Homo sapiens: one gene and its partners. The protein of the gene in region 1 purifies or fractionates together with the protein of each later gene. This does not show direct contact. Each region holds a gene or a part of one and is shown in the gene's direction. Other genes may lie near its edges. The genes, in order: PPP2CA, CCT7, PPP2R5E and PPFIA1.

Region 1 (7,521 bases):
TTGGCCAGGCTGGTCTGGAGCTCCTGACCTCAAGTGATCCACTCGCCTCAGCCTCGCAAAGTATTGGGATTTGGGATTACAGGCGTGAGCCACTGCACCCAGCCCAAAATGATCTTTTATATGAACATCTGTAGCTTTTATTGTTCTACTGTTCTGGTGTAGTCTGTTTTATTGTTGTAACTATCTGAGAGCTGGTAAGTTGAGACCAAAACAACAACAACAAAACAACCAAAATCATGCTTAAAACTGGTTCTTTCCAAGGTTGCATTTTTGTTAAGATCTACTTAATAGTTGATTGGATGATTTTTTTTTTTTCCCCCTCCGGTCTGAGGGATGGTTGCTTCTACTGTATACCACTGTTATCGCCAGTATTTAATTATATTTGTTCTGGTCTGTGAAGTTTGGTAGGAAGGGAAGAAAGAGCTCTGGTTGGCTTTTCTAGATTGACAAGTTAGAAATTTCACTTAAGAGTTAACTGTTCTTTTTATTTTAAAGGACAATTTGATAATGTCAACATTTAAAAACCAAACTACTAGATACACTAGTTAAGTTCACTTCATAGTATCTTCTCTCAGGAAATGTGCCTGCATATGTATACAGAGGAGAAAATACGAGGATATATATTGCTGTAGTTTCACACCCCTCTGCCATTGTAATTGGTCAGGGGAATACTCTGCCTCCACTATGAGAAAATAACCAGCTGTCTCAATAAATGTTATGTATTATTATATATTGTTAGAAAAGCAGGCTGCTGAACAATATTGTTTCTAGTTTAAAAATGCAAAGGAAAACTATTGTTTCTGTAGACATACAGTATGTGTGTAAACTTTGTAAACAAAGTTTTAAAGGATATACAGACACTCCCCAATTTTTCGACTTAATGATGGTGTGAAAATGATAGCTATTCAATATACCCCTCAGTTTATGATGGGACTACATCCAGATAAATATATCATAACTTGAAAACATTGTAAGCTGAAAACACACTGTTGACTCGATTATATTTACGATAGGATTATCTGGATGCAGCTGTGTTACAAATTGAGGAGCATCTGTACATCAAAATTTTATTGGTAACTTTGCCCAAAGGGGGTGGGATTGTGTAGGGTGCTCAAAGGGAACATTTCATTTTATCTGTGCCGAAATTTTTTACAAGAATGTATTACTAATTTGTATAGTTTAAAAAATAGATAACACTGTTTATCGGTGTGATTTGCCTAAATTGAAATAAAAGCAACAAATAGCATTTAGACTTAATTTTCCTTCATGATTTGAATAGAAAATTTGAGTCAGTTGTAGTAAGGAACTTCAGGCAGTCCTGAAAGTCAACTTTTTATTATTAATACAGAGAATAGCTTTGCAGATAAACAGATATTCACAGAAGTATATTAACATTTAACTTCTGATAGCTTTAAATGTGAAAATTACATCATGGCAAGATTTACATGGTATATAACCATCTGTTTGCTTATGTCATGCCCTTTTAAAACTTCTGAATAACTTTTGCAAGTTTCTTCTCAGTGTAGGACTTATTTCATTTAGTTATTTTCATTAATATATGATAGGTGTTAAAAAAACACTAGATGTGGTATTAATGCCAGACAGACTTGGTAATGGAATAAGCCTAGTGAATTTGTGTTTTTTAGTGATAGTAAATGGGAAGTTGGAATTACCCTGCAGAGAAAAATTTCAGAATGAAGTAGGATTTGATAATAATGGGTTGTACATATTTCTTAATAGGTATCTCAGGCCAGTATAGTGGCTAACGCCTGTAATTCAGCACTTTGGGAGGCAGAGGTGGGCAAATCATTTAAGCTCAGGAGTTTGAGGCCAGCCTGGACAACATGGTGAAACCTCACCTCTACAAAAAGTGCAAAATAGGCATAGTGGTGCACACCTGTGGTCGCAATTGTTCATGGAGACTGAGGCAGGAGGATCGTTTGAACCTGGGAGGTGGAGGTTATAGTGAGCCGAGATCATGCCACTGTACTCCAGGCTGGTCTGGAACTCCTGGGGTCAAGCCATCCACCCGCCTTAGCGTCCCAAAGTGCAGTGGTTCTTAAACTTGGTTGCACACTGGGAAAAGGAGGGGTGGGGGTGCTTAAAAATTATTGATGGCTTGATTCCAGTCTCCAAAATTCTGACTTTATTAGGGGAAGGAATGGGCATTGGTGTTTTTGTTTTTGTTTTGAGACAGAGTCTTGGTCTGTCACCCAGGCTGGAGTGCAGTGATGCGATCTTGGCTCACGGCAACCTCCACCTCCCAAGTTTAAGCAATTCTCCTGCCTCAGCCTCCCAAGTAGCTGGTACTACAGTCATGCACCACCATGCCTAGCTAGTTTTTTTTATTTTTAGTGGAGATGGGGTTTCGCCATGATGGCCAGGCTGGCCTCAAACTCCTGACCTCAAGTGATCGGCCCGCCTTGGCCTCCCAAAGTGCTGGGATTACAGGTGCGAGCCACCGCGCCTGGCTGGGCATTGGGATTTTTAATGTGCAGCTAAGATTGCATACCAATGCTTTGAACCCAGTCCTTGTCATCTGTGGTTGTCATGGCTCATTAGCAACAATTCTCTGGTAATTTGTTTTGGTATCTTATGTAAAGTGGTCTCTCCCAGTTTCCCTCTCCCTTTCCTTTGTGACACTTAACACAGTGTACTTTTGGCTTGGTTACTTGTTTGTGGTCCTTCTCCCCTCTACGGTAGTGGGAATGAGCCATCTTGTTCACCACTATATGTCCAGTTGCTAGCATGGGGCTGGTACAGATGGTTGAGCAAATGATTTTCTCACAGGTATGAGCCACAGTGCTTGGCCAAAAACATGTTTTTAAAAAGTCAAACAGGGCTGAGGTGAGGTGGCTTATGCATGTAATCCCAGCCCTTGGGAGGATGAGGGTGGAGGATCACGTGAGACCCCGTCTCTACAAAAAAGTTTGTGAAAATTAGCCAGCCATGGTGGCGTGTGCCTGTGGTCCCCACTACTGAGGTGGGAAGATTCCTGAGCCAAGAAGATCCAGGCTACAGTGAGCTATGATCATACTACTGCACTCCAGCCTGGGTGACAAAATGAGACCCTGTCTCAAAAAAAGAAAAAAAAAGAATCTTTGAGTGCTGCATTGTAGTTAGAACTCTGAAGGTAAGGAAGTAGATACCTGAATGTCCTGTTCGATTTTCATTGGTTTTATGTGACAGCTAACAATTAGTATTTAATTAGATGGCTATTTGATAGGTTTTTAAAAAACTCCTGGTATTGATGATAGGAATGCATATTTTTTCCCTAGGTAACAGGGTGAGATAGCTAATGGATTATAATCATATCTCACTTATTTTAATGGGTTCATAAATGCCTGCAATTTTATCTTAGACTGAGTCTGCCCCTTAAGCTACATTAAGTGTAAGTAAACAAATCTTTGTTAATATTGTTTAATGCCAAATGTATTGCCTTATTTTTGTCTCCCATCTGTAGGCTAAAGAAATCCTGACAAAAGAATCCAACGTGCAAGAGGTTCGATGTCCAGTTACTGTCTGTGGAGATGTGCATGGGCAATTTCATGATCTCATGGAACTGTTTAGAATTGGTGGCAAATCACCAGATACAAATTACTTGTTTATGGGAGATTATGTTGACAGAGGATATTATTCAGTTGAAACAGTTACACTGCTTGTAGCTCTTAAGGTAATTTCAATTTTATGTTGGGGCATGTTGAAATGGGTAAGACAGTCCTCTTGAAAGTTTTTTTTCCCCCAGTTATTTTCTCTATCTGAATGTTAAAACAAAATTCCACATTTAGGAATGCATATGTTCAGGTTTTGGACTTAAAAATCATAGGCGTCTGCGTTCTGAGTAAGGGGATGGTACAGAATCAAAACAAAAGGAGGAGAATGAATGCCTCAGTCAGATTGTTTGAAAAAATAGGCTGGGCGTGATGGCTTATGCCTGTAATCCCAGCACTTTGGGACGCTGAGGTAGGCAGATCACCTGAGGTCAGGAGTTCGAGACCAGCCTGGAGAACATGGTGAAGCCCCATCTCTACTAAAAGTACAAAAAACTAGCCGGGGGTGGTGGCGGGTGCCTGTAATCCCAGCTACTCTGGAGCCTGAGGCAGGAGAATTGCTTGAACCTGGGAGGCGGAGGTTGCAGTGAGCTGAGATTGCGCCACTACACGCCAGCCTGGACAACAGAGCGAGACTGTCTCAAAAAAAAAAAAAGGAAAAGAAAAATGTTAGAGGGCTGGTCAAATAGATATTTTAGTTCAGTAAATTGGGGTATGGAGAGGTAATATAATTAGATTTGTGTTTTTAGATACTTTTGAAGTATTATAAATATATAAACATACCAAATGTCAAAATGTTTTAAATCAGCTGGTCACGGTGGCTCGTGGCTATAATCCCAGCACTTTGGGAGGACAGGACAAAGTGAGCATATTGCTTGAGTCCAAGAGTTTGTGACCAGCCTGGGCAACATAGTGAGACCTTGTCTACAAAAAAATAATAATAATTAACCGAGTGTGGTGGCACAGGCCTGTAGTCCCAGCTACTCAGGCTGAGGTGGGCAGAGTTGCCTGAGCCCAGGAGGTCGTGGCTGCAATGAGACTTGATCTTGCCACCCTACACTCTAACTTGGGGAACAATGAGACCCTGTCTCAAAAAAAAAAAAAAATATCGAGGAAGAAGTTCAAGAAAAAAAAGAATTTTTCTGAGAAATTCAAGAAAACATTTGCTGTAAATATTTAACAGAGAATATTATGTACATTACATACATTATGTATGTACATATGGTTTAGCTCAGTTGAATAGTTTCCAGCCATTAACCATGACAGTAATAATCTAGACTAGGCTGGGTGCAGTGGTTCACGCCTGTTATCTCAACACTTTGGGAGGCTGGGGAAGGCGGGAAGGATCACTTGAGTCCAGGAGTTTAAGAACAGCGTAGTCAACATAAACCCCATCTCTACAAAAAGTTAAAAAAAATAGCCAGGTGCAGTGGTGCATGCTTGTAGTCTCAGCTACTCAGGAAGCTGAGGTGGGAGGATCACTTGAACCTGGGAGGTCAAGGCTACAGTGAGCCATGATGCACCACTGCACTCCAGCCGTGTGACAGAGCAAGACCCCTGTGTCTTTAAAAAACAAAAATCTAGAATGGTAGAAATGATAACCGAAAAAAGCAAGTTCCAAAATTACATGCATTACATGCCAATTGTAGCTTTGCAAAGTGTACTGATGATGATCTGAACATGAAGCAAAAGATGGTAAAGAGCTGTTAGGGTGGCAGGCTTCCGCCTTTCCCTTTAAATAAATTGTTTGACTTTACCTTTACCCAAAAATCTTGGGGAGATTTTTTCCCCCCTAGGCAACAGACTGATTTTTATTATTAAAGAATATTCAAAATGATAAATGGCTGTCACAGACTTTCCTAATATTAGAGAAGCAGTGAGATGTGGTTTTAGCGTGAGCTGAATTTTCTTGATTAATATCTGAATTGTGTAAAGTCCTACGAAATATTTTTGGAGATCGTTATTTTCTGCATCTGTAAAATGAAGGAGTTGGACTAGATGGTGGAAGGTTTCTGCGGTGACTCCAAATACTATGAAAAGAGCTAACCTGTGCTAAAAACCCAGGATGAATCCCAGTGCTCAGAGGAATGAATGTGCTACCTTTAAGAGTATGCAAGCAGCCTGGGCAACCTAGTGAGACCCCATCTCTTCAGAAAACAATTTTAGCCAGACATGGTGACATGTGCTGTAGTCCTAGCCACTCTGGAGGCTGAGGTGGGAGGATTGCTTGAGCCTAGGAATTTCAGGCTGCGGTGAGCTACTCCACTGCATTTGAGCCTGGGCGACAGAGTGAGATCCTATCTGGGGGGAAAAAAACTTACTCATGGAGGTTAATGGGCTGAATTGTAGCCCCCAAAATTCATTTGTCTAAGTCCTAACCCACAGCACCTCAGAATGTGACTGTATTTGGACAGGTAATTAAGGTAAAGTGGGGTCACATGGTTGGACCCTAATCCAGTGTAAGTGGTATCCTTATTAGAGATTAGGACACAGATGGGGAGAAGATAAGACAGATGGAGAAGATGAGCATCCATAAATCAAGGAGAGAGGCCATCAGAAGAAACCAACTGTGCTGACACCTTGATCTTGGACTTCTGCCTCTGGAACAGTGAGGAAGTAAATTTCTGTTGTTTAAGCCACCTATTCTCTGATGCTTTGTTGTGGCAGCCTTAGCAAAAGAATACCGGGGGAAAGGATGTTTCTTTCAGTAAATGGTGCTGAAGCAAATGGATCAGAATGTATCATAGAACTAAATGTAAGAGCTAAAGCTACAAAACTTCTAGAATAAATCAGAAAATCTTTGTCAGGTTAGTTAAAGATTCTTAGATATAACAAAAGCACAGTCCATAAAAAATTGAAAAATCGGACTTTATCAAAATTAAGATTATGTTTTTTCAAAAGATGACACCAGAAAAAAAGTACTTGTATTCAGATATTTAAAAAAAAAAAACTTTTACAGCTCAATAACAAGACAGATAATTGTAAAATGGGCAAAATATTTGAATAGATATTTTACCCAAGAAGATGATACATGAGTGGTCAGTGAGCACATGAAAAGATGCTTGATATCAATTGTAATCAGGGAAATGCAAATTAAAGTAACTGAGTTACTACTTCACATCTATTAGAATGGCTGTAATCAGTAAGGTTGATAATACCAAGTGTTGGTTAATACCGGAGATTAAACTCTTCATGCATTGCTGGTGGGAATATAACATGGTCTAGCTACTTTGAAAAACAGTTTGACTGTTTCTCAAAAAGTTAAACGTTACCAGGTGATCCAACAATTATATTCTTAGGAATCTTCCTAAAAGAAATGAAAGCATATGTCCACAGAAAAACTTCCATGTATATGATTATAGCAACATTATTCATAGTAGCCAAAAACCTCAGTAACATAATTGCCAGTTCATCTTAACTGTGAATAGAGAAACAAAAAATGGTATAGCCATACAGTGAAGGACTGTGCAACTATGAAAAGGAACAAACCACTGATCTATGCCAGAACATGGGTGAGCCTCAAAAATATTCTAAGTGATATTTAGCCAAAAGACTACATTTTGTATTCCATTTATATGACATTTCTAGAAAAGACAAACTCAAGACAGTAAATCAGTGGTTGCCAGGAGCTGGAGTGGGAGTGGAGAGTGACTGCAGGAGGGATCTTTTTGGGATAATGGAAAGGTTCTAAAACTGGATTGTGGTGATTGTTGCATAACTATAAATTTGTGAAAAATTACTGAACCGTAAAGTAATTTATGGGGTTTTAATAGCCCATTGATTTATGTTTGGTATAAAGTTGGTGGTAGAGGGAGTTTGATTTTAGTTGAGATGAGGTGGGCAAACACCCCATGGGCATTTAAAAATTCTGTAGAGCTGTGGTTTTGGTTCACTATGATATGAGGATGTGTGCTGTTTTTTCAACAAAATTGTAACTGCATTTTTTTCTATAGAAAGTTTCTTGAATTTT
Region 2 (8,466 bases), on another chromosome or scaffold:
AGACAGGGTTTCTCCATGTTGCCCAGGCTAGACATTTCTTAAAGACGCTTAAAAAGATGAAATTTTCAAAAACAGCTCTTTCAAAGCACTACTACCAATAATCTCAGAATCTGCCGTATGCCTGCCCACTCCTCGTGTCCTGCCTGCCCACTCCTTACCCCCTCTCCACCAGAGCAATCTGGTCCTGGATGAAGAAACCGTTGCTGAGTTCCCCGCAGGCCTCTGGAGGTTCAGCGGGGACAAGGTGAATCTGCTCATACCTTGTGTGCTGAAAAACATTTAACATTTGGACAGGTGAGAGTGTAATGAGACACACCTGCTTTAGGACTGGGCTGACAATCCCATCTTATTGGCACCTTATAAAGTGTGAAGGAAACATGGAGTGGTTTCTGTATCGCCAGACACTTAAACATTTTTACTTAATTCTCGCAAAGGCCTATCTGGTTGTCCTACACCACCCTACCCTTCTATGAGATAGGCAGGGGACTTGGTTGTAGATCCAGAGAGAGGAAGTGATGTGCCTTAAGTCACATAGTTCACAGGTAGAGCTGGCAGAGGAAGCTGGTGCTCTTGGCTTTTCACTTCATGTCCCCTAAAAAGACAACTTGTCCCTCCATGGTGCCTAGGTTTATATTATACTCAGGGGAGTAGCTGGAAGAGCTTCCTTTCTGTGCTGCAGCTCATGGAAGGCAGAGCTGATTCTGCTCCCTTCCCTGTCCCAGCACTCAGGTGGGATGAGAGGGTCACTGCAGCTCAGTGAGGGGAAGGGGGAGGTTGAGGATCAGAGATCAGGGGCCTCCCTTAACTTACAAAGATACCACCAAAGTCCTTGGCAGGTGTGGCTGTGAAGATGTATCGAATGTCCCCAGGACTCAGCACTTGAAAGTACAAATAATCATGGATACGGAAGCCTGAAGGATAAAGAGTACAGGTAAGAAGCCTCCCAGGAACAAGCTGGTTCAGGTTCAGATCCCAGACCCTGTGTCTTCAGCTGGGCTGGCTATAGTCTGGGCTCAGGGTCCTGGCTTCAGCCAACGGGGTCCACTAGTGGCAGGGTTGGGGGCTAGATGGCCTCTGTCCTGGGGAGGATAGAGTTGATGCAGAGTCATTAACCCCAGAGGCTTATATCAGCTGCTGCTGCTGCTTACGCAGTAAGCCAGGAAAACTGAGAGCTCCAGGGTTAGTATTTTTGCTCTGAAGACCTGGGAGTTTCAGGGTAGAGATGTAGTGGCCTGCGTACAAAGCAATTCTCACTAAAATTTAAAAGTTGACTTTCTGGTCCCACTGCCATCCCCTTAAGTCTAGTCACTATCATCTCTTGTCCTGACAGCTCAGCTTCTTACCTGGCCTCCCTGCCTCCATTCTTGCTCCCCAAGCAACAACCAGAAATCGAAAACATCTTAGCAATTATGAGCACATCACCATACCTAGGGTTTCAATAACTGCCCTTTGCATTTAAAATTTAAACTCTTTTTAAACTGTGGCCTACAAGACCCTGTTTGCTGTGGCCCCTGGCCACTCTTCCAACCTCATCTCCTCCATCCTGTGTTCAAGCTACACTGGCCTTTCAGTGTCTTCACTTCTCTGGGTCTTTCTGCAGGCTGTTCCCTGAGCCTGGAAGGCCCCCTACTCCCACGCCACCCTACTTCCACCCCTTTACCTGACTCTTTCCTAGTCATCCTTCAGGTCACACCTTAAATGTCACTTCCTCAGAGAAAGCTTCTGCCTCATGATTGCCCTCCCATACCCATTCAAATGTACTTTTTAATAAATGGGGACTTTCAACATAATTTGTAATTATACAGCTTTCATAACTTTTCTTTTTTTCTTTTTTTGAGACGGAGTCTCGCTCTGTCACCCAGGCTGGAGTGCAGTGTTGCGATCTAGGCTCGCTGCAAGCTCCGCCTCCCGGGTTCACGCCATTCTCCTGCCTCAGCCTCCGGAGTAGCTGGGACTACAGGCGCCCGCCACCACGCCCGGAGAATTTTTTGTATTTTTAGTAGAGACGGGGTTTCACCGTGTTAGCCAGGATGGTCTCTATCTCCTGACCTCGTGATCCACCCGCCTGGGCCTTCCAAAGTGCTGGGATTACAGGCGTGAGCCACCGCGCCCGGCCTCTTTTTCTTTTTTTTGAGACAGGGTCTCACTTTATCACCCAGGCTGGAGTGCAGTGGCGCCATCTCGCCTCACAGCAACCTCCACCTCCCAGGCTCAAGCGATTCTCATGCCTCAGCCTCCCAAATAGCTGGGACTACAGGCGTGCGCCACCATGCCTGGCTAATTTTTTTTTGTATTTTTTAGTAGAGAGGGTTTCGCCATGTTGACCAGGCTGATTTTTTTTTTTCATTTTTTAAATAGGAATGGGGTCTCGCCTTGTTGCCAGGGCTTGTGATCCTCCCACCTTGGCTTACCAAAGTCCTGGGATTACAGGCGTGAGCCACCGCACCTGCCCTGGATTCATAATTTTTAAATATCTGCCTCTTCCACTTTGTAACTTCATTCAGTGAAGAGTCACCAGTGTCTTGCACAGTGGCTACAATATAGGGATAGCCCTATAAACTTTCCTGAATGGGTGAACAACTATATCTAGCTCCACAGCACCGATGAAGAGAATTTCCAGACCACTAGATTTTTCTGGGGCATGGGATCTTCTCCTCAGCACCAAAGTTTAATGTTGTACCTGGACTTGAGTCCCTGGTTTCCTTAACCCAGAGAGACTGCGGAATGTTGAAAGATAAAAACTGCTGTCATGGGCGGGCGCGGTGGCTCACGCCTGTAATCCCAGCACTTTGGGAGGCCGAGGCGGGCAGATCACGAGGTCAGGAGATCGAGACCATCCTGGCTAACACGGTGAAACCCCCGTCTCTACTAAAAATACAAAAAAATTAGCCGGGCGTGGTGGTGGGCGCCTGTAGTCCCAGCTACTTGGGAGGCTGAGGCAGGAGAATGGCGTGAACCCGGGAGGCGGAGCTTGCAGTGAGCCGAGATCGGGCCACTGCACTGCAACCTGGGCGACAGAGCAAGACTCCGTCTCAAAAAAAAAAAAAAGAAAAAAAGAAAACTGCTGTCACAAGTCTGTTAGTCTATCAACAAACTACCAAGTCACTACTGTGTACCAAGGATGGCATTAAGGCTTTAGCTGTCTTTGTTTACTGCCCAAATCACAGCCATCAGTTAGAGCTCCCATGGCTTGGCACTGGGCTATACAGTCCTGGGAGTGGGGACTCCCTCTCGGATACAAATACACCCCCAGAAAGCCTTCCTGGACTAGCGTCAAACTCACTCCCTCCTCCCCAACCCTTGCTTGCCTTTGTGTGTGCTTATTTGTGTAAGTTGTGGGTATACGTATGTGCTCACTTATGTGCATAGATGTATACATTTATGTGCTTGTGTAGGTGTAAACGGTTTGTGCGTGTGTGCCCACGTGTAGGAATGTGTGCTCCTGTGTACATGTGAATGCTCACATACATATCTCCAGCCTGTAGTATCCTTCCTTAGCTGTCCCTTCTGGTCGCACCCTAAGTCACCTGGGTCGGCGCTAGTGGGCGGGGAGGGGCGAGTGGGGAGATCTGCTTTGTCGTGGGAAGGTGAGGAGTCAGAGCTTCAGCCTCAGGCTGCGCCCACTTTATGTCCTTGGACCACCACCCACTTATTCCGGCCGCCCGCTCCCAGACCTGTCCTGCTCTGAACTCGCAGGGTCCCCAAGGTGACCCTTGGCCCCCAACCCGAGACGCGCGCAAGCTGGACGGCCAGCCCCGCCCTGCAACGCAGTCCCACCCGTTGCCGCTCACCGTGGGCCGCGACGCACGCGGGGAGCCAGAGCACGAGACAACACCAGCCCGCGGCGCCGGGGACCATCTCCAGGGCCGGGCCCGGCCCGGCGCCGCGTTTCCTCTCGCCGCCCCGCCGCGCGTCGCTCGCAGGACTTCAGCCTGACAGCTGCTCCGGCCTCCCGCCCACATACCCGCTCTCGCCGCGGGCTGGACGACGGGAACGAGGCTCAAGGCTGATTGGCTCTGACGCCTGCTCATGTAGCCACACTTTCCGCCTCTGCGCCTTAGCCTACTTCCTATTGGTCGAGAGAAGTGGAGCCGGGGGCTGATTGGCTTAAACTCTTAACAGCTACAACCGGCCTTCGCCTCAGCCCCGCCCCAGCATACTCTCCGGGTCCTCGCTGGCGGTGGGCGGGCCAGGGAGGACAAGCACTGGAGGTGTGCCCGTAGCCGGACTTGCTTCAGCTGTCGATAGTCGAGGCCGTTAACCCTTGCGGTCTCGGTCCTGTCCACTCCAAGGCCGCCTCGATTGACGACGATTAGCCTTCTCCCAGCTGCGCTTCCCTCCTCCCAGCTGCGCTTCCCTCCTCCCCACGCCTTCACGGGAAGGCACTCGTCTTGCGCCAGGGGGTCTTCCGCCCAGTGCCACCAACGCTTGCGCGCTCACCGTGGATAGGCGCTGGGGCCGCGGCCTGGCGCACGCCATCCACGAGGAGCCTCTGGCCAGTGCAAAGCCAGAAAACGGGCATTGGGGGCAGCTTCCCACGCTCGTCCCGTTGACACTGACTATGTAACTGTGACACTGGACACCTTGACCTCTCAGCCTCCTTTCTGTCATCAGTAAAATGGCCTTAATAGGACCAACGCAATAGGGTTGTGAGGATTAAATGAGATCGCTCACGTAAAGTGCTTTGGCACCAGCCTATCCCACACTTTGCGTCCCACACTTTTGCCTTTATTGCATTCCTTGGTCTGGCGTCCGGGGATGGAGGAGGGTGGAATTAAGTTAGTAGGTGATGCGGGCCGAGCAAAGACCCTCCGTGCTCTAAGAAGCACGACCGAAATGCGGCGACCCCTCTTTAATGAACGCCCCTCACTAGAGAGTCCCCGAAGCCCAGCCTCAGGTCCTTCTAGCCGCACCGAGTCGGTGGTAACGAACCATAGAGTAGCGGAAGTGGTCCGTTCTCTTCCTCTCCCGGCCCAAGCTTCTGGGTATTTCTATTGCGCGAGGCATTGTGGGTTGCTGGGCGGCCCGGTCTCGGAGAAGAGGGGAGAGTGGCGGGCCGCTGAATAAGCTTCCAAAATGATGGTGAGTGGCGTCTCGCGCATCCGTCGCCATCAGCTGCCATCTGGCCGGTGGCCGGCGCCGCTCGGCCTGGGCTTGCTCTGTAGGACCCTCTTTTGCTTGCCGCCTCTGTCCTCGCCCAGATCCCCAGCTTAGGGGCGACCCCAGCCAGCCGCGGCCTGGCTCGGCCCGAGCACGGCGCTGGAGCCGTTGGCGAGGGCTGCGTGGGGCTTTAGAGGAGTCTCTGGGCTGGCCGGTTGGGGACTACAAGTCCCAGGGTGCTTCGGGCCCGCGAACCCACGTCGGGGACCTCTTTTTTAGCCCCGCATGATCGGGACTTGCGTGAAACGAGTGCAGGTCGGCCGTGGTTACGCGGTCGGCAGCTAGACTTGGAAGCTGGGGCTGCTCTGAGATTTGCGGGCTGTAAAGACGTGTGCTTCTTGGAACCGGCACAGGCACATTGGGGACCTCATATTGTGCCCGCCTAGGGACTCACTATGTTCACTCGCTGACCCTCACCGCAGCGTGCAGAGAAGCAGACGCCTTCCCTAGTACTTTTAATTCATTCACTCATTCGCTCAGTCATTAAATAAACGCGTCTTTAGTGCCTACTGAATGTACCAGGCCCTGGTGGTTGCTGGGGGTTGCAGCCTCTCAGCCAGGAGAACGGGAAAGGTAGATGGAGACACTGTATCGGAGGTGGGAAGACCCAGGCTCGGACTCTGGTGACATAAGAAAGGCTTTTCTAGTTGGCTACCTAACTCTGGGTCTCGTTTTCTTGAAATTTGGGGCGAGGGAGTTGCTGTGAGTCCTGGAGCCACCTAAAGTGCTCCTTGTAGCCCTACTTCCCACACTTCTTTTCTCTGTCTCTCGGAGCTTTAGATACTTTCCGTGGGTCCCAAGCCTCGATGGTATCTCCTGGGTTGTTATTGAGTAGGGCCAGCTTCCGAGGTGGTGTTTGACCCTGACTGAGATACTGCTTTCTGTGCACTTGGCAGTTCACTTATTCATTTTGGCCTGTCCGACTCTATCTTCTGCTCTTTTCCTGCTTCCTGCAGCTTTTCTCTGTCCTGTTAGGGACGCAGACACCTTTTAGGTGTTCTACCAAATGCCCTATGAATCCCGCTTGTACCCAAGGTAGAAGGAAATTAGCATTTAACAGTACTTCCTCTCCCCTTTATGTCTCTAGCATTGCTCATTCTTGAAGTCGTCTTCATCTTCTGTGCAGAGGCAGCATAGTACAGCAGTTGAGAGTAAGGCCTCTGGAGCTACACTGAATGCCTAGGTTTGTAACTTAGCTCTGCCACTTACTAGCTGTGTGACTTTGAGCATGTTATTTAATTTCTGGTTCTCAGTTTGTCAGTGTGCCTAGCAGATAGTAAGCACTCAGCAATGTTAGCTCTTACTCGGCGAGGTGGTTGTTTGCTTCCTTTCATCTCTGAAATCAGTCCATCCCGCTGCCAGGGCTTCCGTAAGAGCTTTGGTTCACATTCACACAGCTAGGGATCAGAACCGCCATTCTCTGCCGTGATAAAACTTCACCAGTGGGCTCTAGATCATCACACTTGGATTTTCCCTGAACTGACCCCTCCTCTGTCAGATTGACGTTTCCCTGCTGTATTGGCTCTTGATATCTCCTCCCCATTTTTGGAATGTGAAACTTCTATCTCCAAGAGTCTTCCTGTCTTCAAATTGGCCCCTGATATTCTAGAATACTTCTGTAATCGAAAGAGAGGTGAAAAGGTCCCCTGAAACCTCAGTCCTGTGATGTTGGTACAGCTTGCATAAAATGTATGTCCTTGCCTTTGTGGCGTTGAGCGCTGTGTGCCTTGGCATAGACACACTTGTTTTGTAAGCCATTAAGCTTAATGATGCTTAGTGAAAGTTTTAAAGTAGGATGAAGAGGAAGATCAGTAAGCTGAAATTCCAAAACCTTCCATTATACCTGTGGCCAATTACTGGAGTCTGCTCTTGTTTCTTTTTCTTTTTTTTTTTTCCCGAGATGGAGTCTTGCTCTGTTGCCCAGGCTGGAGTGCAGTGGCACCATCTTGGCTCACTGCAACCTCCATTCCCAGGTTCAAGCAATTCTCCTGCCTCAGCCTCCCAAGTAGCTGGGATTACAGGCATACGCCACCACGCCTGGCTAATTTTTGTATTTTTAGTAGAGACGGGGTTTCACCGTGTTGACCAGGCTGGTCTCGAACACCTGACCTTGTGATTCACCCACCTTGGACTCCCAAAGTGCTGGGATTACAGGCGTGAGCCACCGCACCCGACCTTGTTTCTTATTTATTAGAGGAATAAAAAAAAGGAGCGAGGTTGAAAGTAACTAAGGGATGGAAACTGGACTTTGCATACAGTGCCTGCTGCTGGGGAACTGTTAGAAGAGGACCTATCCTGCTTGTCTTGGCTTGACTCAATCCAGCTCTGCCACCTTTTCCACCCCATAGATGCTCTCTACCCAGCCTGCTGTTTCTTCAGGGCCTGCAAAGCATAGGGAACCTGGGGAATCTGTGGTTAGCTGCTTCCAAGCTCTTCTTGCATTGTGCTTAAGAACTCTCAGTAAATGTAGTGTTACTGTAGTGCCAGTGCTTTTCTCCCCAAAAGTCAAGAAGCCAGTGCTGTCAAGCACTTACAAGTAGCAGTTGGATTTTCAGCCCCAAAAGCTGCTGAATATTGCTTCATGTGTGGCCAAATCTTGGCACTCTTCAAATTAAGGTTATTTTGGTCCTTGTCTTTGGAAAGCTTGTACTTAAGCTGGATGGTGATAAAAAGTTGCGAGCAAGGGCAAGTGAAGAGAAAGTTATGGGATTCCCCTATTCAGATGCCCTTGTTTATTACTGTAGAGAAAACTTCTTGGAAGAATTGGAGCTCTGAGGAATTGGTGGCCTGGTGGTGAGAAAGTGGTTTTGGTAGAAGATGGCAGAGTGACTATTTTAGATGGGGGTACACTTTGCAGGTTGAGGTGAGAAAAAGTATACACAAGCATTGGGTAAGTTAACCTGTTGAGGTGAAAGAACCTGTTGAAGGTGATAGGAAGTGATTGAGACTCATGTTAGTTTTTGATTTAAAGTGTAAGACTCCATCCGTGGCAGGGGTGGACCAGAGAAGACTTGGGGCTGCCATAAGGAATGATTTAGCAAGACTGGGAGATGGTAGGGCCTTTCAGGACACACATCTTTCCCTTACAGAAGGTGCCAGGGACTGGGCCAGCTGAAGAGCCAGAAAGAATGCTGGGAGTATAGAGAAGCCATTTCTTGCCACCAGACCTGGGACACTCCAGCAAAAGGAAGGAATTTTCCCTTCAGTTGACGCCTGATCCCAAATGTAGGGGTTTACATGACAAGCATTCTTTTTAAAATAAAAAATAAAAGGAGTAATGTATGATTATTTGACAAGCATTTAAAA
Region 3 (7,521 bases), on another chromosome or scaffold:
CATGCCACTGTACTCCAGCTTGGACATTGGAGTGAGACTCTGTCTCAAAAAAAAAAAAAAAAAAAAAAAAAAGAGAGAGAATATTGAAGAACAACTTATTTCCACTCAAATTATTTGGTTTGTATTTAGTGAACTTCAATAATAAAACTATTTTCTGGTTATTATCTAAACTAAATAGACTAAACCCTTGAAAAAGATGAGAATTAACTAAGGGGACCAGGAATAGATAAAACTATTATTTTATCTATTCCTGGTTGAGGTTGATTATGATATTCTGGCATATTACAGTTATTTATAATGAGTGTACTTTCTTAATGAGAAAATGGGGGCCAGGCGTAGTGGCTCACGCCTGTAATCGCAGCACTTTGGGAGGCCAAGGCAGGCGGATCACCTGAGGTTGGGAATTTGCGACCAGCCTGACCAACATGGAGAAACTCCATCTCTACTAAAAAATACAAAATTAGCCGGGCGTGGAGGCACATGCCTGTAATCCCAGCTACTCAGGAGGCTGAGGCAGGAGAATCACTTGAACCCGGGAAGGGGAGGTTGCCATGAGCAGAGATTGCATCATTGTACTCCAGCCTGGGCAACAAGAGGAATCCCAGCTCTTTGGGAGGCCGAGGCGGGCGGATCACGAGGTTAGGAGATCGAGACCATCCTGGCTAACATGGTGAAACCCCGTCTCTACTAAAACTACAAAAAATTAGCAGGGCGTGGTGGCGGGTGCCTGTAGTCCCAGCTACTCGGGAGGGTGAGGCAGGAGAATGGCGTGAACCCAGGAGGCAGAGCTTGCAGTGAGCCGAGATTACACCACTGCACTCCAGCCTGGGCGACAGAGCGAGACTCCGTCTCGAAAAAAAAAAAAAAGAAAATGGGTTTTTAAAAGCAAGAATAATAATTTGTCAAATGAGCAATAGAAGGGTGTACTGACAGATGGAAACATTGGTTTCTCCATAGGTGTGGGAATAGGACAAGGGAATGAAGAAATTTAGTTGGTACTGTCAGAGAATAACTGAATGGACAATTTTACTTCAGGATGGCAAGAAGTTAATGGTTTCAGTTCAGATCAAATTTTGAAGTATTACAAATCTGAAAATGGTGGGTGGAATAAGTACTTAACACTGTTAGATACATATGCCAACATTAGTGCTATGTAAAATTGAAATTAGAAGAGAATTTGACAATATCCCCTGCATGACAGTGTGGTTAAGCGTTAAAATTTCCACCTACAGGGAGAGAGAAAAGTGGGAAAGATTGGGGGTGACAATAACTGTGTCAGCAATATTTAGGATTTTTAAAGATAGAGTTGTCAGTATGAAAGCCGTGTGATAACTGAGCATAATGCTCAGTTGGAGGAAAAGCCCAACAGGATAAATTGCATTGAGTGCCATATTTGATCAAAAACATGAAACACTTTAGTAACAAGATGATGAATGTTTTAATGATGTCAACACTTAATTAACCAATTTATGCCTAGTGTTCCATTATTGGAACGCTAAGCTTGTGGGAGTTATTTCTATCCCACTGCTCAAGGTCATCGTCAAGGTCTGATTTTTCACAAGAAAGTTTTACAACCTCTGGCATAAATGGGTTAAAACTGCAAATTAGGGCAATGTGAACCTGAAATACATTGAAATGTTTTTTAGTTGAGTAAAATTCCAAGCCCTTGCTTACCATCCCCTTATCTCTCCAAATAAAAAGGTCATATTCATCGAAAGTCAGCAGGATCTATACAATTGATTTATATATACCCAAATTGTGTTTTTTGCTAACATTGATTTAGACCTCATAATTATTCCCAGACTGTACTGAGAAACAAAAAGTGATAATTTGTCAAACAGCTTGATTATGTTTAGAATCTGGAATGCACCAGGAGTGGTGGTGCACACCTGTAGTCCCAGCCACTCAGGAGGCTGAGGCAAGAGGATTGCTTGAGCCCAGGTGATTGAGGCTACAGTGAGCTATGATTGTGCCACTGCACTTTAGCCTGAGCAACAGAATGAGACCCTGACTCTAAGAAAAGAACAAAAGCAAAAACAAAAAAGCCAGAAGAAGATTGGAGGATTATCTAATCTTGCCCTTATTGTCCTATAAGTGCAATTTTTTCAGGGTCAAAATTAACAAATAGGTAATTTTATGAAAACTAGTCTGCTTACTGAAATTTATATTGTGCAGATTTGTATTTGAGATAGCTGAAACTAATTATGGTAAACAAGGCCTAAGTTATGAAAATATTACCTATTAGATCATGATATTAATTACCATATGGCTTTACTAAGCCATAAACATTTATTGTAAAGAGTTCCACTGGTTTGTGCTCCCATATGGTCTTAAACATTTCTGGTTAATACCAGACTATTATGGCATTATAATTCAACATTTCCTCAAGTCTCTAGTGGAATAAGAATATAAAATTACTTAGGTTTTTCTTGAGTTTTTTGGGAGTTGGAGGGGATGAAGATTAATCTCTATTGCTCTAGATATTAATATAACTTTTAAAAAACATTGGTTATAATGTTTTAAAAAAAATGAGGCATTGGAATTACATACAAATTTCACTCAACCCATGTGGATTTCCCTGCGTAGAAATTGTACTGTGGCTGAAGTTTTAATCCTTGCTAAGTGGGGTAGTGCATGGATTACATCCCCATGCCTGAGATGGTGGAGCCCCCATTTTCAGGAATTATCTGAATTCCTGGATTTATGAATGTTAATCTGGATCAGCATTTTTTTTTTTTTATTTTTTTTTGGAGACGGAGTCTTGCTCTGTCCCCCAGACTGGAGTGCAGTGGTGTGATCTCGGCTCGCTGCAATCTCCGTCCACCACAATCTCCGCCCCCCGGGTTCAAGCGATTCTCCTGACTCAGCCTCCCAAGTAGCTGGGACTCTAGGCATACGCCACCATGCCCGGCTAATTTTTGTATTTTTAGTAGAGACGGGGTCTCACTGATGATCCACCCGCCTCGGCCTCCCAAAGTGCTAGGATTACAGGCGTGAGCCACTGCGCCCAGCCTGGGTCTGCTTTTTATTGGTTCGCTGCAACATGGAAAAAAACCAGAGACAGTGTAGTGAATTATTTTTAGTAAATGTGAATTTATATAACTTACAATATAGTCTTATATTCCTGCATCATGTACTTCCTACTTGGTTGATGTTAAAAATCCTTTTTTTGTAAAAATGTAATTTTAAAATGTCCTTGGCAAAATATAAAGTTTGTCGATTCTAATTTGGACATCTAATTTTTGGGGGAAGTTTTACCAAATAGTGAAATCTCAAAGTCTGAAAATCACTAAATTTAAAATCAGTGAAATTGATATTGAACCCAATTTGAAGGCTTGATGCATTAAAATTTAATACTTAATAATATCAACCAAGTTCTTTTCAGATCATTAAAAGTGAAATCACAAGTTTTCAGTTTCTTCTAAACTACTGAAGAATTTAAATATGCATGAGGTGGGAAAAATAGGAATAAAGGAGCAGATATATTTTCTTGACCTACTATATTCTCTGTATCAGTGTCATCTCCAGCATCCTTTTTGAGAAACTATTTGGAGATAAAGAAAAATTAAGATTCTTACTAAGCTGCAAGTGAAAATCACTAATATGCCCTTGATTTTACAATAACTGATGCATATAAGTCATTCCCATTTTTGTTTCTTAGTAATTTTAAAGTTAATTTTCTCAATTAAGCTAAGTATAAAGGAGTGTTAAGGTGAAATTGTAAAATATTCATTGTTGCATAATCTCATTAAACCTCAGCTGTTTACATTGTATTCTGTTTCTTCCTCAGTGAGAAAAAGAAAGAAAAGGAGCGTGAAGAATTGTGGAAAAAATTGGAGGATCTGGAGTTAAAGAGAGGTCTTAGACGTGATGGAATAATTCCAACTTAACAAAAACAATGACAACAACATTACTAACCTGTGGAGTCACACGTTTATGTAGTAGAAGATGGAGCAACAGTTTTCTGTATTGTGCAACTTTACAGTAGATTTCACCTTTGTTTCATTATTACAGCAGCACTGTATATACCTGTCTCTAAGTAAAGGAAAAAACAAAATAAGGACTTCAATCCAAAGTTTGGACAGTAGATGGACTTCTCAGAACTTTGCAAACATAATCATTGTTCTCACCCTCTTTTAAAAAAAAAAATCGGTCTTCAAAGATCTGTTGATGAAATTGCTATGTTAAAATTCCATTATCGGGAGTTCCTTATTTATCACTAGCAGAGAGTATGATACAATTTTCAAATGTGAACAATCTTAAATTTAGCTTGTCTTTCTGCTAAGCTGTTAAATGTATTTATAGTAAAGGAAGAAAAAAAGACTGTCATTTCCTTATAAGTTTGTGTAACATCCTCCTCTGGATAACTTGACTGTAATTTAACATCTTTTTCTTTTGCACATCTTCCTGAGTTGAATGTCCACGTGGAATGGGGTCATGAATTATAAAAGTCCCTGATAAAAGTTTTGTTTACTGGGGTGAACATCTTTCCAGTAACCAGGTAGTCCTGGTACTCCTTTAGTTTTAAAATTAGGAGTTAAGAGAGAAGAGGTGATAAACATAGTAGGGAAGGGAATATCGGATTCATGCATCAGTTTATGGTGAATCCAAATCAATGTCTTGAATCCTTTGAAAACAGGCACTGGGACATCACAGGCTTCAGTACCTGACCAGTATTAGTTGCATATATCATTGAACACACATACCAGAGATGTTTTAGAAATGTGAGAAAAACATCCTTTTGGACCATTTGAAATAAGAAAGACAAACACTAAACAATACAACCATGAAATTGATCACCGGGATTGCAAATCTAATTGGGAAAAGAGTTGAGCAAACAGCTTGGACTGTTTGGAGTTGTTGCCTTACTTTTTAATATGTATTTATAAAGTATTCCAGCAAAAGAGGATGTAGCCTCTGGGAAAAAACAAACATGTTACAGTGTTTTTTGTAGATTCTCGTTCTATATCTCATCACAGCGCCAGCCCTGTTTTTAGCCGGAAAGGATTCAGGATAAACATTATTATGCATTCTGAATTGGATGCATATTCCTAACTACTGTATTTGTTACCAAAAGTGGTTCTACAAATGCTACTGAAAAAAATCTGGAAATTCCTAATGTCCTGAGTATTAATAATAAAGTTTAAAAATGCTTTTATATCAAAGGTGCATCGTGACCAAATTGTTTAAGAAAAAAAAACAAAAAAAACAAAATCTAGGGCTGTATTTTATATATATATATATATATATATATATATATATATCTTATTGGCTCTCTGCTTTGTATTTAAATGAAGAATCTTACATCTTGGGTAGGTAAACTGCTGATAAAATTTGTGTACAGTATGTACTTACCTAATGCAGTTGCATTATTACGTACTGAAAGATATGTGTTTGGAGGTTTATTTCCAGGATGCATTTGCTTGTTTTGGTCATGGCAGCAGTGAGTTGGTAATCCTAAACCATCACTTCCAGCAGTATTCATGGTATAGAGCTGATCTGTGTTCATATGTTGAATTGTGATAGTAGCAAACATGAACATATGAACTATTGTTGCTCTTAATAGAAATACAATATAAATATGGGCTTGTATATTTTCTTCCTTACATTTAAATATAAAGTAGAATACGCAGTTTTATTATTTTCAAGAAAAAGAAAGAGAAGCTGCTGACCTTTCTCCCCCATAAAGTTTTTCAGGATGATCAGGTCACAGTGTGTACGTAAGAGTCAGCTAATTATGGATATTGTCATCTCGGTAACTTTGTAAAAAAACAAACAAAACTGGCATTGTTAATTCCAAAAAGAAAAAAAAAAGCAGTAAAAAAAAAAAGTCATATGCAACACCAGACGCAACATGGTTTAATGGAATTAATAGTTTTTTTTTTTTTTTTTTTAAAGAACATTGATGGGGATTCACTGTAAAGTTGGCAGAGGCTGCCAAAGACGAAACAACTGACTTTAAAAATGCTGGAACAATGTGATAAAAAATAAATTTGTAACAAATCTTCTCCTTTTTAGCCCTTGTCATTTTAGCCCTTTAGTTTCAACTCTGCATTATATTTAGTTTATATAGTGTAAACTTTTGTTTGCCATTAATTCATCTTTTTAGGTAGAAGACATTAAAATCACAGGTTTATGAAGAATCTCTGCTCATTGGAATGAAATGCAGTCATTTGAAATGAGAAAGGCCAGGATCCTTTTTTGTACCTTACCCTGTCTTCAAGAGTAAAGGTGAACACTTACAGCTCTCCTCCTTGATGTCAATTTTGTATGTTGATCATTCCAAACTGAGAAGAATAAAGCCACATTTTAGACATATTTATAGAATCAATTAAAGCTATATGTCTAAAATTCGTAGGGCAACTTCTGAGAAGAAACACCGTCTTTTTCTTTTTTAATGGAAAGTGACAATGTGACATTAGTCATGTTGTGTGCGGTGACGCAGAGTAACTGAGGTAATCTGACTGTTGCACTATGTGACATATTTCAGGACGTACTTGCTGCATTTGCAGCAGCCCTCTCTCTCTGTCCCTTCCCACAATTCTGCTGTTGCTGCAACTTGAGTTAATTGTGACAAATGCATCTTTGTGTTATATTTTGTTTGCTTCATAATTTCCAGAACTATATATAAATATATTTTTTAAATAGCAAATATTGTAGTTAGTGAGTGATGATCACTCCAACCTTATCCTTACCATATTGGTTTCAGGGATAGGATTAAGAGTGTCTTTGGAAGAGAAAAATACACACAACCCTGTGGTTTAGAATGACGCTGAGGCCTTAGGCTGTGGGCCTAGAACAACTATGTGAGTGAATTCACCCATCTCATACTTTGAATCAAGCATGCATTCCTGTTTCTCATTGTGAAGTATCCCCAGTTGTTTTCCTTCAGTGTTGAGTTTTTGTCCTTTTAAATTTTATTATATTTTGCTCTCCCTAACATTTGACTGTTTTTTATAAAAGAAAAGAAAAAAAAAGAAATAAATAATACCCTCGATGCCACTGGATACTCACAAGCAGGGTTATGCTCCTTCATCTTGGGCTTGTTTGCCTAAATGAAAGGGTTTAATTTATTTTGTACCTCCTATGCGTGGGATAGTCCAGGGTGCAGAGCCAGGACTTGCTTGTAATTGCACCTGCTATACTTAAATGTATAGCCCTAGGCTCAATCACACTATGGAAAGAAACAAAAAAAGTATATTTAGAGCTTTAAAAGCTTTTTTATTTTTTTGTGGGGATGAGGGTGGGATGGGAAAGGGATGTATGGATGTTATTGGCATTTTTAAGTGTTTAGAGTTTTTTGGGGTTTGGGGTGGTTTTTTTTCCTTGTTTTCCTTTTTTCCTTTTAATTGGATGCACTGACCTGGCCCAGGAAATGAAGAGATTCTCTTTTGATGCTATTACCAATGTTATCATAAAGTGACAGTCACCTGTAACAAAAAGGTGGCACCAGACATGATCACTGATGTTTTATTTGCACATCAATATTTTTATTTTTGTATTCTGGCTCAGCTGCTTCTC
Region 4 (7,546 bases), on another chromosome or scaffold:
AAACTTAAAATTTAATTTCTCATTTCAAGAATAGTTCATGTCATATAAAACTCATTTTATTAAAAATGTATCACCTTAACATTCTAGAGTTATTCATCTACAAGGTAAATTTTACATAATACATTCTTAATCTAAACACAGACTGTTTTCTTTTTCAAATTGGGGTTCACACTCTGTATACTTGTTTGAATTTGCTTTTTTAAAAAAGTTTTTGTTTATGTATAAAAATTAAGGCATACTCTACATATTAATGTACAGTTATTTGACAAACGTATATAGTAATGTAACTACCACCACAATCATGATATATGTAGTTATCTAAAATATGACTGTGGGCCAGGTGCGGTGGCTCACACCTGTAATCCTAGCACTTTGGGAGGCTGAGGTGGATGGATCACCTGAGGTCAGGAGTTCGAAACCAGCCTGTCCAACATGGTGAAACCCAGTCTCTACTAAAAATACAAAAATTAGCCAGGTGTGCCTGTAATCCCAGCTACCCAGGAAGCTGAGGCAGGAGAATCTCTGGAACCCCAGGAGGCGGAGGCTGCAGTGAGCCGAGATCACCCCACTGCACTCCAGCCTGGGCGACGGGGCAAGATTCAGTCTCAAAAAAAATGACTGTGAATGTCACCAAGTTTTCTGTCATTTGGAAGTGCAATAATTTAACCAATCTTGTTTTCTTGGCCATTTAGGTTGTTTACGATTTCCCCCTTACTGATTTTGCGATCTGGGGGAATGAAATAATAAATGAATTAAAATGAATGAGGGCCATGAGTGGTGGCTCATGCCTGTAATTCCAGCACTTTGGGAGGGTGAGGTGGGAGGATTGCTTGGGCTCAGGAGTTTGAGACCATCCTGGGCAACATGGTGAAACCTCTTTTCTACCAAAAATACAAAAAAGTTAGCCAGGCATGGTGGTCTGCGCTGGTAGTCCCAGCTACTTGTTGGGGAGCTGAGGTGAGATGACTGATGGGCCTGGGAGGTAGAGGCTGCAGTAAACTGTGTTCGAACCACTATATCCCAGCCTAGGTGACTACATGAGACCCTGTCTCAAAAAAAAAAAAAAAAAGAGAGAGAAAAAGAACAAAGGAAGGGTAAGGGGAGGGGAGGGAGGGAGAGAGAGAGAGGAAGGAAGGAAGGAAGGAAGGAAGGAAGGGAGGAAGGAAGGAAGGAAGGAAGGAAGGAAGCAAGGAAGGAAGGAAAAAGAAAGAAAAGAAAGAAATAAAATGAAATTCAGAATTCTCATTTTCCTGGAGCTATACCAACTGGGTGTCTCCCTTCTCCGCTGGAAAAATCCCACATCATTCAAGACCCAGCTCAGATATTGCCTCCTCTATGAAGCCCCCATGATGCCAGCTGGAGAGCGGGTTCCTCCCTTCCCTGTGATTCCACAGCACCAAGTCACACACTGTTTACGGGACAGACATTGCAATAGTCTGTTTTTCTTCTCTTTCTCCAGACTGTGAACTCATACTAGAAGTGATGTCTTAGCTCTGCGTTCCCAAGACCTAAGCCATGCTTGGCTCATACATGCTGCACAAATATTCATGAAATGAATGAACATTCTACCCTGCCGAACTAAATTTTGATCTTGAGCCGATTTTTCTTTTTTTTTTTTTTTTTGAGATGGAGTCTCGCTTTGTTGCCCAGGCTGGAGTGCAGTGGCGCGATCTCGGCTCGCTGCAAGCTCCGTCTCCCGGGTTCACGCCATTCTCCTGCCTCAGCCTCCCGAGTAGCTGGGACTACAGGCGCCTGCCACCACGCCCGGCTAATTTTTTGTATTTTTAGTAGAGACAGGGTTTCACTGTGTTAGCCAGGATGGTCTCGATCTCCTGAACTCGTGATCCGCCTACCTCGGCCTCCCAGAGTGCTGGGATTACAGGCGTGAGCCACTGCGCCCGGCCTTGAGCCGATTTCTTAGAAAACAGACACTTTATGAGCATGGTGCAAACATAAGCTGGCTGCATTAAGCAGGTACCCCTAAGGAGAGCTGGAAATTTGCTGGTTTCAGACAGTGGTTCAGGGGAACTTGGGAGTTGTGCAGAATTGCTGGGGTGTGGAGAGGTACAGGGTACTTGCAGAACACCTCATCTAAGCGATCAACTTTACAATTTTATTATTTTTGAGACAGAGTCTCGCTTTGGCACCCAGGCTGGAATGCAGTGGCACAATCACAGCTCACTGCAGCCTCGACCTCTCAGGCTCAAGCGATCCTCCCACCTCAATCCCCCAAGTACCTGGGACTACAGGTGTGGCCCACCTTGCTGGACTAATTTTTAATTTTTTGTATAGACATGGGTCTCGATATATTGCCCAGGCTCAAGCAATCCTCCCACGTTGGCCCCCCAGCGTGCTGGGATTACAGACGTGAGCCACTGCACCTGGCCAATGTTTTTTTTTTTTTTTTTTTTCTGAGACAGAGCCTCGCTTTGTCTCCCAGCCTGGAGCGCAGTGGCATGATCTCCTCATTGCAACCTCCACCTCCCAGGTTCAAGCTATTCTTCCACCTCAGCCTCCTGAGTAGCTGGGATTACAGATGCCCGCCACCACACCCGGCTAATTTTTGTATTTTTAGTAGGGATAGGGTTTCACCATGTTGGCCAGGCTGGTTTTGAACTCCTGACCTCAAGTGATCTGCCCACCTGGGTCTCCCAAAGTGCTGGGATTACAGGCTTGAGCCACCGCACCCGGCCTCACCTGGCCATTTTTACACTTTTAAAATAGCAAGAAACTAGGGGCAAAAAGTACATATTCATATCTATGTGTAGTCAGTCAATAAATATTTATTGAATGAACGAATAAATTAATGGAAGGTGTTCCAGATCCTGGTAGGCGAGAGTCAGTCGGAGGGAGTGCTTGTTCTTGGTGCACTCACAATGGAGAATCAAGGAATTCACCTTGGACGGGCTCATTTCTCCCTCTCCTAGGCCCCGTGCAGCCTCTTCTCAGACTTACTAGTTCTGAGGGGCTCCTGGCTGCCTCACACCAACAGCAGTGGCCAGTGGACACTGGCGATGGTGTCCTGACATTTTGGTTTGTGAAGAGTTTGTGCTCCGAGTCAAATCCTGGGAGGAGTGGGGAGGGCATCCGCTTTAATTAATTAGAGGTGTCTCTATTCATCTCCGTATCTGCAACATCTAGCACAAGACTTGGCCCATAGTAGATGTTTAAAAATTCTTGCTGAGGCCGGGCGCAGTGGCTCACGCCTGTAATCCCAACACTTTGGGAGGCTGAGGCGGGCAGACCACCTGAGGTCAGGAGTTCGAGACCAGCTCGACCAACATGTAGAAATCCCGTCTCTACTAAAAATACAAAATTATCTGGACTTGGTGGCGTGCGCCTGTAATCCCAGCTACACGGGAGGTTGAGGCAGGAGAATCACTTGAACCCGGGAGGCAGAGGTTGCAGTGAGCCGAGATGGCGCCATTGCACTCCAGCCTGGGTGACAAGAGTGAAACAACGTCTGGAAAAAAAAAAAAACTTGCGGAAAAGATGAAATGACCAAGACTCGCGCAGTGCTGCCCGTCAGGCTCTCAACTAGTCGCTCTTCACATCTGATTCATGTCTTAAAGCAGCCTCGCAGGTAGGTCTGCATCATTTTCCCATCCTACATCGGAGGCGCTGAAGCCCAGGCGGGTTTCCCGAGTCGCCCGGGCCCACGCTGCAGAGTGAAAGCCACAGCGGCAAAGCCTGCACTCTGGACGCTGCGCCGGGACGTCCCCAGGTGCGGCAGGCAGCGCTCCGTAAGTGGGTCCTGGCGGGAACTCCGTCCTTCTGAACCCAGATCAGGCCCAGGGAGACCGTAGGGGCGCCGCGGCGGGCGGGGTCTGGGTCCTCGGTGGTGACTGAAGCCTCGGTTCGCTCTTCTGCAAGGTGCGAATCCAGAGCCTCCAGCTCGGGAGGGACCTGACGTGCCGGACGCGTCCAGCTCAGAACTCGAGGCGCGGTAGACACTCAGCAAAGGCCTCCGGCGTCCCTGCAGCCGTGGGGGGAAACTGGGGACGCCCGGAGGAAGACGCTGACCCGGCGAGCACCTGAGCGCCCACCTGTGGCTCATCCCGGAGACCGCCCCCTCCCCCGCGACCCGGGCGGGGCCTGGGGGGCGTGGCTCCCGTCTCGCTCAGCCAATCAGTGCCCCGGGGCCGCCTCCCGCCCCCTCCTGAGGAGACAGCGCTTGCGTACTCGGGCCAAGGTGCTCCTCGGGCCCCGCCCCCGGGGCGGTGCTGACGCTCGCGCCGACGCGCTCGACGTCGGGCACGTAGACGCCGGCGCCGCGCAGCCGGGCCCGCTCCTCCTCCGCTCCGCCAGTGTCCGGCCGCGGGCCGGCCTTAGTGACTGGGGCGGCGGGCCCCGGGGCCGCGGCGTGGGGCGGGCAGGCGGACGCCGGCCGCGGGCTGCTTTCGTCGGCTCCCAAGCTCTCCCGGAGCGAGCAGCCGCCCGCGAGCCGCCGCGGAGCCTCCTCGCCCGCTCCCGCCGGCGAGCAAGGTAAGGGAGCGGGACACTGAGGCAGGCTCGGGGCCCAGGCGTCACCGGCGCGTCCCGGTCTCCGCGGCGGCCACGCAGCCGATTAGATGTCTCCGCGGGGAAGGGTGCGCTCCGGGACGGGTGGGGGCGAGGCCGCGGCGCCGGGTCGCGCTGGGAGAGCTCCGGCGGGACACCCGCGCCCCAAGGGACGGCTCCGGGGACTGCGCGCTGCCCCTCCCCGAGCCCCGCGCCCCGTGACCCGGGCGCTGGGGCGAGGGGCGGGGACCTGTGGCCGCTGAAAGCCCTGGCCCGAGCGGGCTCCGTTGTCAACGGTCCTCACCCCCCGGGGTTCGGGGCTTCCGCCGCACCTGATACAGGAGGGGAGGAGTGCGGCTCGAGCAGGCTGGAGGTCACCATCCCCATCAGGTGCGCCGTCTGGGGCATCCCCCTCTCAGGGGTCCACCGCGCCCCCAGTACTGCCCGAAAGGCTCAGAAGCGACTTCCCCTTTCCCTGGCGCTGTCTTTATATCCCAGACACTTAATAGACTCTCGTAATCTCACCTTTCACTTTTCCCTCTTTCCTAGCCGCCCCCGGCTGTATCGACCTGCTATATTTCCATTGTGGATTTTTTTTTTCGGTTGTAAACTTACGTAAGTTAGGTTGACCAACCGTTGCAGCCATTGGAAAACACTTCTACCAGCGTTTAACGAATCCGGTTCCTTTTAGTGCTCACCAAATCCAGCCCAAGAATTCAGGGAGCCGTCAGTTCTTCCCGGGAGCTGACTGCACACATTCCTGCAAGATGCCTGATGGATTTTGTACTTGTCAGTTTTGCTGGTTGTATGCTCCTTCTGTGCTTTTCCTGAAAAATGATTGGGTGACATGTGTTTTGACTTTCTCCCCCCCTACCCCCCCACCCTCCCCACCCCACTGGGAAGTAAAAAAAATAGGTAACAGAAGCACACTTGTTTTCAGCAAAAACAAGTACAGCTTTGCAAACAGACTACCCCAGGGCTTGCCCTTTTTTGTGAGGGTAGTCCTTTGGGATCTTGACCCCTTCCCTGGATTTTTGTCTGTGTTAATGTCTTCATGTTGTGTATTTTTGCACTTAATATTTGCCCTGTGTATGTTTTCCCAGCTTATTTACACACAAAGCATAACAGATCTGAGCATAATGAGACTGCCCATCTTTTTAGCTACAGATACCTGTAAAGTTGCATATTTGTGGGAACCTGTATTCTGAGCTTAATTACTGTAGCCTGGGTCTTTCATTTCAAGATGATGTGCGAGGTGATGCCGACCATCAGCGAAGCAGAAGGCCCCCCTGGAGGAGGTGGAGGCCATGGTTCCGGCTCCCCTTCACAGCCAGATGCAGATTCACATTTTGAACAGTTGATGGTCTCCATGCTAGAAGAAAGGGACCGCCTTCTTGATACACTGAGAGAGACTCAAGAAACGCTGGCCTTAACCCAGGGGAAGTTACACGAGGTTGGTCATGAAAGAGATTCCTTGCAGAGACAGCTCAACACGGCACTTCCACAGGTATGAGTGCTTTTAACCTGAAACTATAGATTTTTCTCCACTAAATGTTTTTTTATTAGTGTCATCTTTTGTTAATGTTTCAGATGAGTATTTTCCGTAACGATTTGTGAAATGATAGTTTCTGGTGTTTGTAAGTCAAATACAAAGTTCCTAGGGATTAAACTTCTTAGGGAGAACAAATCGTTGTACTCTAAAGTCATGTGAAAATACCTCATTATTTTCATTCCTATCTTTGGGAACTGCCTAGGTTCAGGAAGTTCTCCAGAGTTTTTGAAAAAGGGCTCTGAAGCAACCAATCTATTTGGTGCCTCCATTCTGTTGTCTTAAGCCTTTTCTGGCTAAACTTGTACTTCCCATGGATTATCTCATGTATTTCTAATTTCCTAATGTAATTTAATAGACAAATAGGATTGATTTCACGGAAAAAAAAAATTATTTTGATAGCCCACCTTTATCAGAACATCTAGGTTTTGTAAGTCACATTTGTTTTAGGGGATAGAAGACTCGAGATTGATTCCTTAGGAACTTTTTCCTTGGCAGATGAGAATTTTAAAGCTTAGGCCGGGTGTGGTGGCTCATGCCTGTAATCCCAGCACTCTGGGAGGCTGAGGCAGGCGGATCACCTGAGGTCAGGAGTTTGAGACCAGCCTGGCCAACATGGCAAAACCCTGTCTCTACCAAAAATACAAAAATTAGCAGAGCGTGGTAGCGCGCATCTGTAGTCCCAGCTACTCAGAGGCTGAGGCATGAGAATCACTTGAACCCGGGAGGTGGAGGTTGCAGTGAGCCAAGATTGCACCACTGCTCTCCAGCCTGTCTCAAAAAAAAAAAAGATTTTTAAAGCTTAGAACAACTGAAATTGTTTCTCTGAGTATGTTACATTTGGACCAGTGTTTGAAAGACTTTGCTCATGGAGTTGAATGAGGATTTACTTAATGGTAGGTAAAGGGAGAAAGTAAAAACTAGAAGAGTGTAAGGTGAGTGGCACGGGGCATAGTGGGAGAGAAGTGGGTTATTTATGTGTTTCAGAGCTGTCTAGGCGCCACGTTACTCATCATAAGTGCCTTTGGGGTGCATTCAGGTAGACCCGCATAAGCACACATTTATACTCGCATGATGGGTCTGCAGTGATAAATTAGTAAATGAATAAGTACTAGCCTTAATGTGTTTCTTGGCTGTAGTCAGTTCTCCTGAAAGATTGATAAGCCAAACGTGGGTTTCCTTTTTAGCAACAATAATTTGACGTTAGCGCTCTATGTTCCTTTTTTGTTGGATTAAAGAATCATTAAGATTTTTCTTATTTCAATCTTATAAATTACCAAGTTTATTTATGTTGAATTTTATTACTACAATTTTAAAAGAAGTAGCCAATTTATGTTTTACCAGGATTTTATTGTATTTGTAATTTAAGGTACACGTATTGAAGTGTATATCAAATACTAATATACTTAATAAGGTAGGTTTTGGAAAGAATGGGCACACAAGACATGTCAGGGAAGTGACAGGAGTTTTGTACAGTTAGTCGCAGGCTGTGGAGGT

What was found.
Region 2: the proteins of PPP2CA (region 1) and CCT7 purify together in Homo sapiens (affinity purification with mass spectrometry; 5 studies listed by BioGRID and IntAct, with this or other methods). This does not show direct contact.
Region 3: the proteins of PPP2CA (region 1) and PPP2R5E purify together in Homo sapiens (affinity purification with mass spectrometry; 8 studies listed by BioGRID and IntAct, with this or other methods). This does not show direct contact.
Region 4: the proteins of PPP2CA (region 1) and PPFIA1 purify together in Homo sapiens (affinity purification with mass spectrometry; 6 studies listed by BioGRID and IntAct, with this or other methods). This does not show direct contact.

Annotation. Positions count from the first base shown.
Region 1 is NC_000005.10:134,202,074-134,209,594, reverse strand, and holds part of PPP2CA (serine/threonine-protein phosphatase 2A catalytic subunit alpha isoform), read left to right. Parts: intron 1-3,463; coding exon 3,464-3,673; intron 3,674-7,521. UniProt on the Homo sapiens protein: Catalytic subunit of protein phosphatase 2A (PP2A), a serine/threonine phosphatase involved in the regulation of a wide variety of enzymes, signal transduction pathways, and cellular events.
Region 2 is NC_000002.12:73,229,303-73,237,768, forward strand, and holds the start of CCT7 (T-complex protein 1 subunit eta), read left to right. Parts: upstream 1-5,005; 5' UTR 5,006-5,076; coding exon 5,077-5,082; intron 5,083-6,247; exon of another isoform or gene 6,248-6,343; intron 6,344-8,466. Other genes in the region: PRADC1 (protease-associated domain-containing protein 1 precursor), read right to left, coding at 159-268, 811-911, 3,792-3,858. UniProt on the Homo sapiens protein: Component of the chaperonin-containing T-complex (TRiC), a molecular chaperone complex that assists the folding of actin, tubulin and other proteins upon ATP hydrolysis.
Region 3 is NC_000014.9:63,372,378-63,379,898, reverse strand, and holds part of PPP2R5E (serine/threonine-protein phosphatase 2A 56 kDa regulatory subunit epsilon isoform), read left to right. Parts: intron 1-3,790; coding exon 3,791-3,890; 3' UTR 3,891-7,521. UniProt on the Homo sapiens protein: The B regulatory subunit might modulate substrate selectivity and catalytic activity, and might also direct the localization of the catalytic enzyme to a particular subcellular compartment.
Region 4 is NC_000011.10:70,266,430-70,273,975, forward strand, and holds the start of PPFIA1 (liprin-alpha-1), read left to right. Parts: upstream 1-4,260; 5' UTR 4,261-4,485; intron 4,486-4,749; exon of another isoform or gene 4,750-4,890; intron 4,891-5,743; coding exon 5,744-6,007; intron 6,008-7,546. UniProt on the Homo sapiens protein: May regulate the disassembly of focal adhesions. May localize receptor-like tyrosine phosphatases type 2A at specific sites on the plasma membrane, possibly regulating their interaction with the extracellular environment and their association with substrates.